Linked DNA regions of Homo sapiens. The protein of the gene in region 1 purifies or fractionates together with the protein of each later gene. This does not show direct contact. Each region holds a gene or a part of one and is shown on either strand. Other genes may lie near its edges. The genes, in order: D2HGDH and SDHB.

The links.
Region 2: the proteins of D2HGDH (region 1) and SDHB purify together in Homo sapiens (affinity purification with mass spectrometry; 2 studies listed by BioGRID and IntAct, with this or other methods). This does not show direct contact.

What each region holds. Positions count from the first base shown.
Region 1 is NC_000002.12:241,732,202-241,736,107, forward strand, and holds the start of D2HGDH (D-2-hydroxyglutarate dehydrogenase, mitochondrial isoform 1 precursor), read left to right. Parts: upstream 1-2,428; 5' UTR 2,429-2,494; intron 2,495-2,931; 5' UTR 2,932-3,023; coding exon 3,024-3,315; intron 3,316-3,906.
Region 2 is NC_000001.11:17,051,753-17,055,658, reverse strand, and holds the start of SDHB (succinate dehydrogenase [ubiquinone] iron-sulfur subunit, mitochondrial isoform 1 precursor), read left to right. Parts: upstream 1-1,626; 5' UTR 1,627-1,639; coding exon 1,640-1,711; intron 1,712-3,906. UniProt on the Homo sapiens protein: Iron-sulfur protein (IP) subunit of the succinate dehydrogenase complex (mitochondrial respiratory chain complex II), responsible for transferring electrons from succinate to ubiquinone (coenzyme Q).

The DNA.
Region 1 (3,906 bases):
GCGGAGACCGGTAGTGGCCCCGAATGCCAGGCTGCACTGATATTTATTGGATACAAGACAAAGGGTCAGGATAAGGAGAGTGAGCCATCTCCAATGATAGGTAAGGTCATGTGGGTCACGTGTCCACTGGACAGGGGCCCTTCCCTGCCTGGCAGCCGAGGCAGAGAGAGAGAGGAGACAGAGAGACAGCTTACGCCATTATTTCTGCTTATTAGAGACTTTTAGTACTTTCACTAATTTTGCTACTGCTATCTAGAAGGCAGAGCCAGGTGTACAGGATGGAACATGAAGGCGGACTAGGAGCGTGACCACTGAAGCACAGCATCACGGGGAGACGGTTAGGCCTCCGGATAACTGCGGGCGAGCCTGACTGATGTCAGGTCCTCCACAAGAGGTGGAGGAGTACAGTCGTCTCTAAACTCCCCCGGGGAAAGGGAGACTCCCTTTTCCGGTCTGCTAAGTAGCGGGTGGTGTTTCTTGACACTTTTCGCTACCGCTAGACCACGGTCCGCTAGGTAACGGGTGTCTTCCCAGACGCTGGCGTCACCGCTAGACCAAGGAGCCCTCTGGTGGCCCTGTCTGGGCATAACAGAAGGCTCGCACTCTTCTGGTCACTCCTCACTATGTCCCCTCAGCTCCTATCTCTGTATGGCCTGGTTTTTCCTAGGTTATGATTGTAGAGCGAGGATTATTATAATATTGGAATAAAGAGTAATTGCTACCAACTAATGATTAATGATATTCATATATAATCATATCTAAGATCTATATCTGGTATAACTATTCTTATTTTATTATACTGGAACAGCTCGTGTCTTCGGTCTCTTGCCTCGGCACCTGGGTGGCTTGCCGCCCACAGTTGGTATCGAACTCCTGACCTCAGGTGATCCACCTGCCTCAGCCTCCCAAAGTGCTGGTATTATGGGCGTGAGCCACCGTGCCTGGTCAGAAAAATCAGTTATTTTAGGGGATGGTATGGGTGGTAATCTTTATGGGTTTTGAATCATTCCTAATCCCAGGGGTCCAAGATGCCACTGGCCTGCTAGTCAAAGGGAGGGCGTGTGGAGGTCAGGTGGTAAGGGGGTCCACAGACCTCATCTGTGGTCGTCTTTCCAGTTCCTGAATGTGTAATTGCAACAGTTACCCTTGACAATGGGCAAACTCCCACACTCATCTGCAGAGCAAGGGCCAGCCAGGTAGGAAGGGCCAGGTGGATGTCTCCTTTCCAGGGTTGTATGAATGATTCACCTGGGAAGAAGGTGAGTGGCCTCTGGGGATGTGGTTAAGGAGGACAGGAATGACTCCTTGCAACTGCTGCTCCAGAGCCTCATCACCAGGACAAATCCAGCTCGCCGGTTTTCTGTGTGACTACCAGGACCCATCTGCTGTCACGGGCGTAGCCTCCACCTCTTGCACAGCTCCGCAGTCCTGCCTCGGGCCAAGTGTGGTCTCCTGCTCTCTGCCCTCATCTGCTCAGAGATTGGCATCCTCTGCACCCGCTAGGGTTCTATGGAATTGGGTGAGCTGAAGTAACAAGTGCTTTGGGAGGCCGACGCGGGCGGATCGCTTGAGTCCAGGAGTTCGAGACCAGCCTGGGCAGCACATGAGACCTCATCTCTACAAAAATACAACAACAACAAAAAATTAGCCGGGTGTGGTGGTGCACGCCCGTAGTCCCAGCTACTTGGGTGGCCGAGGTGGGAGGATGGTTTGAGCTCGGGAGGCAGAGGTTGCAGTGAGCTGAGATCAACCCCAGAACTCCAGCCTGGGCAACAGAGCTAGACCCTGTCTCAAAAAAACACAAAACAAGTGCTGGCGATGCCTCAGGCAGGGGATCCCAGGCCGGGAGGCTCCTCGGGACAGCAGTTACTGCGTCAGGAGGGCAGGAGCTCCCCAGGTGTGCAAAGGGTTTGAGGGCACGGAGGGCTGAACAGGCAGAAGGGACAGGGAGGCAAGAAAACACCTGCAGGAGGCAGCTGCCCCCTAAGCTAAGGCTGGGGACCCAGGAGGGGTGGTCCGTGCAGGAGCTGGGGAGGCCGCTGGGGAAAGGGGCGCCCCCTGGGCTCGGCCTCGGAGGAGCGGGCCGGCCCCCAGGTCCCTCGGCCGAGCCCACGTCCCGGGCCTCGTTCTGGAGAACCCTCCAGCTGCTGCTTGGGCGTCTTGGGCTGCGCTCAGCCTAGTCCCTTCTCTACCTGGAGGGATGCGCCCGACAGCCGGCGCGCCGGAGGCCCTCAGGAAACGCAGGACGAGGCGGTGGCCGTCGAGCCTCCGGTGCCAGTCGGGGCGGGGCTTGGACGGCGGGGCGGGGACTGTAGGCGCGCAGGGCTGGGCCTGGAGGGCAGGCGGGGCGGGGCCCGTTAGGCGCGCGGGGCGGGGCTTCGGCCGCTGGGCGGAGCCGTCAATGCGCAGGCGCGGCGTCGCCCCGCCCACTCCGGCTCGGCGGCTCTGGGCCTGCGGCGGGCGCTGCGGGTTGGAGCTCGGGACGTGATCGTGGGTGCGTGCGCGCGGCCGCGCGGAGCGCTGGGCTGAGGGTCCCGGTCTGCGGTTCAGCCGCGGGTCGGGGTGGCGGGGCGCGATCTCGGGCGCCGTCAGCCAGTCGGTGCCTGTGGGGGGAGGGGGACGGCGCTGCAGCTCGTCACGTGACCGCGTGGAACACGCGCGCGCGTCCGCGGGATCCCCTCGGGGGGCGAGCTCGGAGGAACGGGGTCCTGGGCAAGGTCCCGGCGAGGCCGCCCCGAGCCTGCGCGTCGCTAAGTCCAGGCCTGCTGCGTGGGGCTTCGCGCGCTCGCGGGGTTGCGGCCCGGGCAGGGGGAGGGCCCGGGTGCTCGGAGCCTTCCCTTCGCTGCCCTCCTGCCCCCTCCCTGCTTCTGCAAGCGTGTTTCAATTTGTACAACGTGCATAAAACATGAAATTACCCTTGGCCACTTCCAGGCGCGCAGCCAGCGGCTCCCTGCCCTTCCCCTCCGGGCCCTGAGTACCGGCCCCCCACCAAGGAGGAGCCCGAGGTCTCCGTCCCGGCGGCGATGCTGCCCCGTCGGCCTCTGGCGTGGCCCGCGTGGCTGTTGCGGGGTGCTCCGGGAGCCGCGGGTTCTTGGGGTCGGCCGGTTGGCCCCCTGGCCCGCAGAGGCTGCTGCTCCGCCCCGGGGACCCCCGAGGTGCCGCTGACCCGGGAGCGCTACCCCGTGCGGCGCTTGCCGTTCTCCACGGTGTCTAAGCAGGACCTGGCCGCCTTTGAGCGCATCGTGCCCGGCGGGGTCGTCACGGACCCGGAAGCGCTGCAGGCTCCCAACGTGGACTGGTTGCGGACGCTGCGAGGTGGGTGAGGCTTGGGAAGCTGCGGCGTTTCCGCGTCCCTGCTCCGCTGCGCCTTCCCGTGGAGGCTTCAAAGCGGGCTGAGAACAACCTGGATGGGGGTGCCAGCCCCTGGCTGCGCTGAGAGGGGCGTGTGCACCGCCACAGGCTGCTGGAATGAATGACCACGAACGAGTCGCTTAGAACAACCCAAGTTTTGTTGTTGTTGTTGTTTTGTTTTTTCTTTTTTTTAAGACGGAGTCTCACTCTGTCGCCAGGCTGGAGTGCAGTCACGGAGTTTCACTCTGTCGCCAGGCCGGAGTGCAGTGGCGCGACGTCGGCTCACTGCCACCTCTGCCTCCCGGGTTCAAGCGATTTGCCTGCCTCAGCCTCCCTAGTAGCTGCGACTACAGGCGCCCGCCACCACGTTCCGCTAATTTTTGTATTTTTAGTAGAGACAGGGTTTCACCATGTTGGCCAGGATGGTCTCGATCTCTTGACCTCGTGATCCGTCCGCCTCGGCTTCCCAAATTGCTGGGATTACAGGCGTGAGCCACCCCGCCCTGCCAACAACCCAAGTTTGCCTGGCGCAGTGGCTCTGCCTGTAATCTCAGC
Region 2 (3,906 bases), on another chromosome or scaffold:
TCCTTCTCTGGGCACACCCTCTCGTACAGAACAGAGCTCACAGTGTCTAGCTGTCTGCTCACTTGCCGTCTCCACCACTAGAGAGTAAATTCAATGAGCAGTGACCACCTGGCTTGCTCATTCCCTGCAGCATCCCAGCACTTGGTGCCTGCCACATAGTAGCCACTCCATTCGTATTTATGAATGAATGAATGAACGAACAAAAGAATGGCACCTTTGCCAGCCACCCTTGAAATCACCTCAGCTCATTCACCAACTGCCCAGTTTGTTTGGGACTCTCAGTGCAGAAACCTGGGCAGCCTCGGGCAAGCTGCACGGTATGCGACAGAAAGGGCTGACTCAAGCCAGTAAGCGTCAGAGATGAATAATAAGACTGACAAATTCTTAGGGAGGCTAGGTGTGGTGGCTCACGCCTGTAATCCCAGCACTTTGGGAAGTTGGAGCAGGATGATTGCTTGAGCCCAGCCTGGGCAACATAGCCAGACTCCATCTCTACAAATAATTTTTTAAAAAAATTATCCGGGTGGCCGGGCGCGGTGGCTCATGCCTGTAATTCCAGTACTTTGGGAGGCCGAGGTGGGTGGCTCACGAGGTCAGGAGTTCAAGACCAGCCTGGCCAAGATGGTGAAACCCCATCTCTACTAAAAACACAAAAAAATTAGCCGGGCATGATGGCGGACGCCTATAATCCCAGCTACTCGGGAGGCTGAGGCAGGGAATTGCTTGAACCCGGGAGGCGGAGGTTGCAGTCAGCCGAGATCGCGCCACTGCACTCCAGCCTGGGAGACAGAGCGATACTCCATCTCAAAAAAAAGAAAAAAAAAAAAACTACCCGGGTATGGTGGCTCACACGCCTGTAGTCCCAGCTACTCTGGAGGTGGGAGGATCGCTTGAGCCTGGGAAGTCGAGGCTGCAGTGAGCCAAGACTGCACACCGGCCTGGGCAACAGAGTGAGACCCTGTCTGAAAAAAAAAAAAAAAATTGGCCGGGCGCAGTGGCTCATGCCTGTAATTCCAGCACTTTGGGAGGCCAAGGTGGGCGGATCACGAGGTCAGGAGTTCAAGACCAGTCTGGCCAAGATGATGAAACCCCGTCTCTACTAAAAATACAAAAAATTAGCCGGGTGTGATGGTGTGCGCCTGTAATCCCAGCTACTCGGGAGGCTGAGGCAGGAGAATCGCGTGAACCCGGGAGGCGGAGGTTGCAGTGAGCCAAGATCGCGCCATTGCACTCCAGCCCGGGAAACAGTGCGAGACTCCATCTCAAACAAACAAACAAAAATTCCAGGAATAAAGAGGTTGAAATCGGGGCAGGGACCCGGATAGGATGGCTCCGCCCCATCTAAGTCTTAGCCCCACCCCCTGAAAGTCGCCCTGCCTCTCAGACTCCTCCCCTTTCTGAGAAGGTCACGGGGGAAGCCAAATGGGCATGCGCCGCTACTGCGCTATTGCGCACGCTCGCTGTGCTTGCCCCGCCTTCCCTCCGCCCACCCGGGAAACCGGAAGCCGCCTCCCACTTGGTTGCTCGTACGCGGCTAGTGGGTCCTCAGTGGATGTAGGCTGGGCGCCGCGATGTTCGACGGGACACCGGCGGAGAGCGACCTCGGGGTTAAGGGGTGGGGCTGACGTCAGGAGCCAAGATGGCGGCGGTGGTCGCCCTCTCCTTGAGGCGCCGGTTGCCGGCCACAACCCTTGGCGGAGCCTGCCTGCAGGTGAGTCCTGGAGCCTCAGAGAGGGAAAAGTCAGGAAAGCCACAGAGACTGCCTGGAGCTGATGGGGCTGCGGAGAGACTGAGGAAGCATAGGGCAAGGCCTCAGGGAGATGGAGGACCTCCTCCCCCTGGTGCAGTGCTTTGGTTTGGCTTCGAGCATCCCTGTCAAGTTATCTTTCTGCGCCTCGCAGCAGCTTGTGAGTTAGGGCACGGGCAATTTTTTACAGCTAAGGGTGCGGGGGGGGGGGACGTTCAGAAAGGGGACTTGAATTGCTCAAGGTCACATGGCAAGCGAATGACTGCTGGAACCAGAATTTGAATCCAGACATTGGAGTTCCAAGCCCTTTTTCTGCCACCAAACTATCGCCTCTGTAGAAAAGGGAGACCTGCGGGGTGTGAAGGATGGGAATTGGGAAGCGAGGTAATTCCTCAAGGGTGCGAGGTTGAGGACCGGGATGGGTGAGGAAAGGACATGTGAATTGTTGGGGACAGGGCAGGGGAAGGGAGAGATGGAGGGAAATGCACCCAGCCCCCTACCTCGAAGGATCCCGGAGGTGGGTGGTGGGGGTTGCAGGAAAGACTGGGTTCCTTAAAGCAGTGTCACCACAGTTTCACTAGTATCCTCTCAGTGTTTCTGACTCTAAAGGTCATATAATAATACGGACCTCATAGAGTTGACATGGAATGACAGGTAGAGGGCTTGGCGCTGTTCTTGTTTATTACTATGCCGTGTGCAGTAACAGATTTTCCCACGCCCCTTGTATGGCCAAGAAACAACACATTTCTGACCTGCCTTCTAAGTGGGAACATTTAGAAGGGGAAGGGAAATTGCTTTTGTATACATAAGGGACTAAGGATTTGCAAATCCTTTCTAAGTCTGTTCCTCTTCTGGGATTCTCAACAACCCCTTTAAGGTGGGCAAGCAAGAATCCTTACCCTCCTTTTTGGAGCTTTGAAAACTTGAGGCCCCCAGAAAGAAAATTTTTGGCTTGCTCAAAATATCACATTCCCAAGAAGCAGACCTGAGGCAGTTTTTTAACATGGTACCAGAAAAACTCCTTAGCATAGATCTTGGGACATGGTTGGTGTCCAAGAAATTTTAGTTCCTCTTCCTCTCTTGCACTTAAATGAGGACATCTTTCATCTTAAGTGCCTGCTATGGCTGCATAACACAGTACATATTGCCCATGTTCCAATCCTGGTTCTATCCAGCATGCTGTGTGTGAACTTGGATCCACTCTGTCTGCATCAGCCTTTCTGAAAAGGGGAGATAGAGGAAGAAGACAGCCTACCAGAGCCTCAAGCTGACATCCTCTCAGTATTAAATTGATGATTGATAATGAGCTTGTTTACCTGTTCCTTTTATAGTTGCTGAGCAAACAATTAAATTGTGAGAGCCCCACTAACGAGAGAGTTCCAAGCCCCTCTTCTAAGAATGCATTGTAGAAAAGGCTAATTTCATAGGTCATTTTTGTAATTCCAGGCAAGGTCTTTGCAGGGCCTCCTGAGGGCAACAGAAAATAGAAGAGCCCCAAGGCCTCCCCTTCCTTGTGGGAATGTACATGTATACCCACAAAAGCCACCTCAAAAGAATTCAGTAATGAGCTTGGTGTGTTACCTGTGGGTAACATTCAGGTTCAGGTTCTGAATTCTTTTTATGCTTATAGTCTGACCACTGAACCACAATTCTGCCTGTAAGTATTTGACTGTAGTATATTAACTATTGTTTGTGTTGCCTTATTTCTTCATCTGGACTATGAACTCCTTTAGGACAAGAACTACCTACTTAAAAGTGTGTATCTTGCCAGGTGCAGTGGCTCATGCCTGTAATTCCAGCACTTTGGGAGGCCAAGGTGGGTGGATCACCTGAGGTCAGGAGTTCAAGACCAGCCCGGCCAACATGGTGAAACCCCGTCTCTACTAAAAAAATAAAAAAAAAATTAGCTGGGCGTGGTGGTGGGCGCCTATAATCCTAGCTACACAGGAGGCTGAGGCAGGAGAATTGCTTGAACCTGGGAGGTGGAGGGTGCAGTGAGCTGAAATCGCACCATTGCACTCCATCCTGGGCGACAAGAGCGAAACTCAGTCTCAAAAAAAAAAAAAAAATTTAAAAAATGTGCATCTTGTTCCTTAGGCTGGCAGGGCTAGGATACCTATTTACAAATCAGAATAATACAAAGACTGATAAGGTTGCCA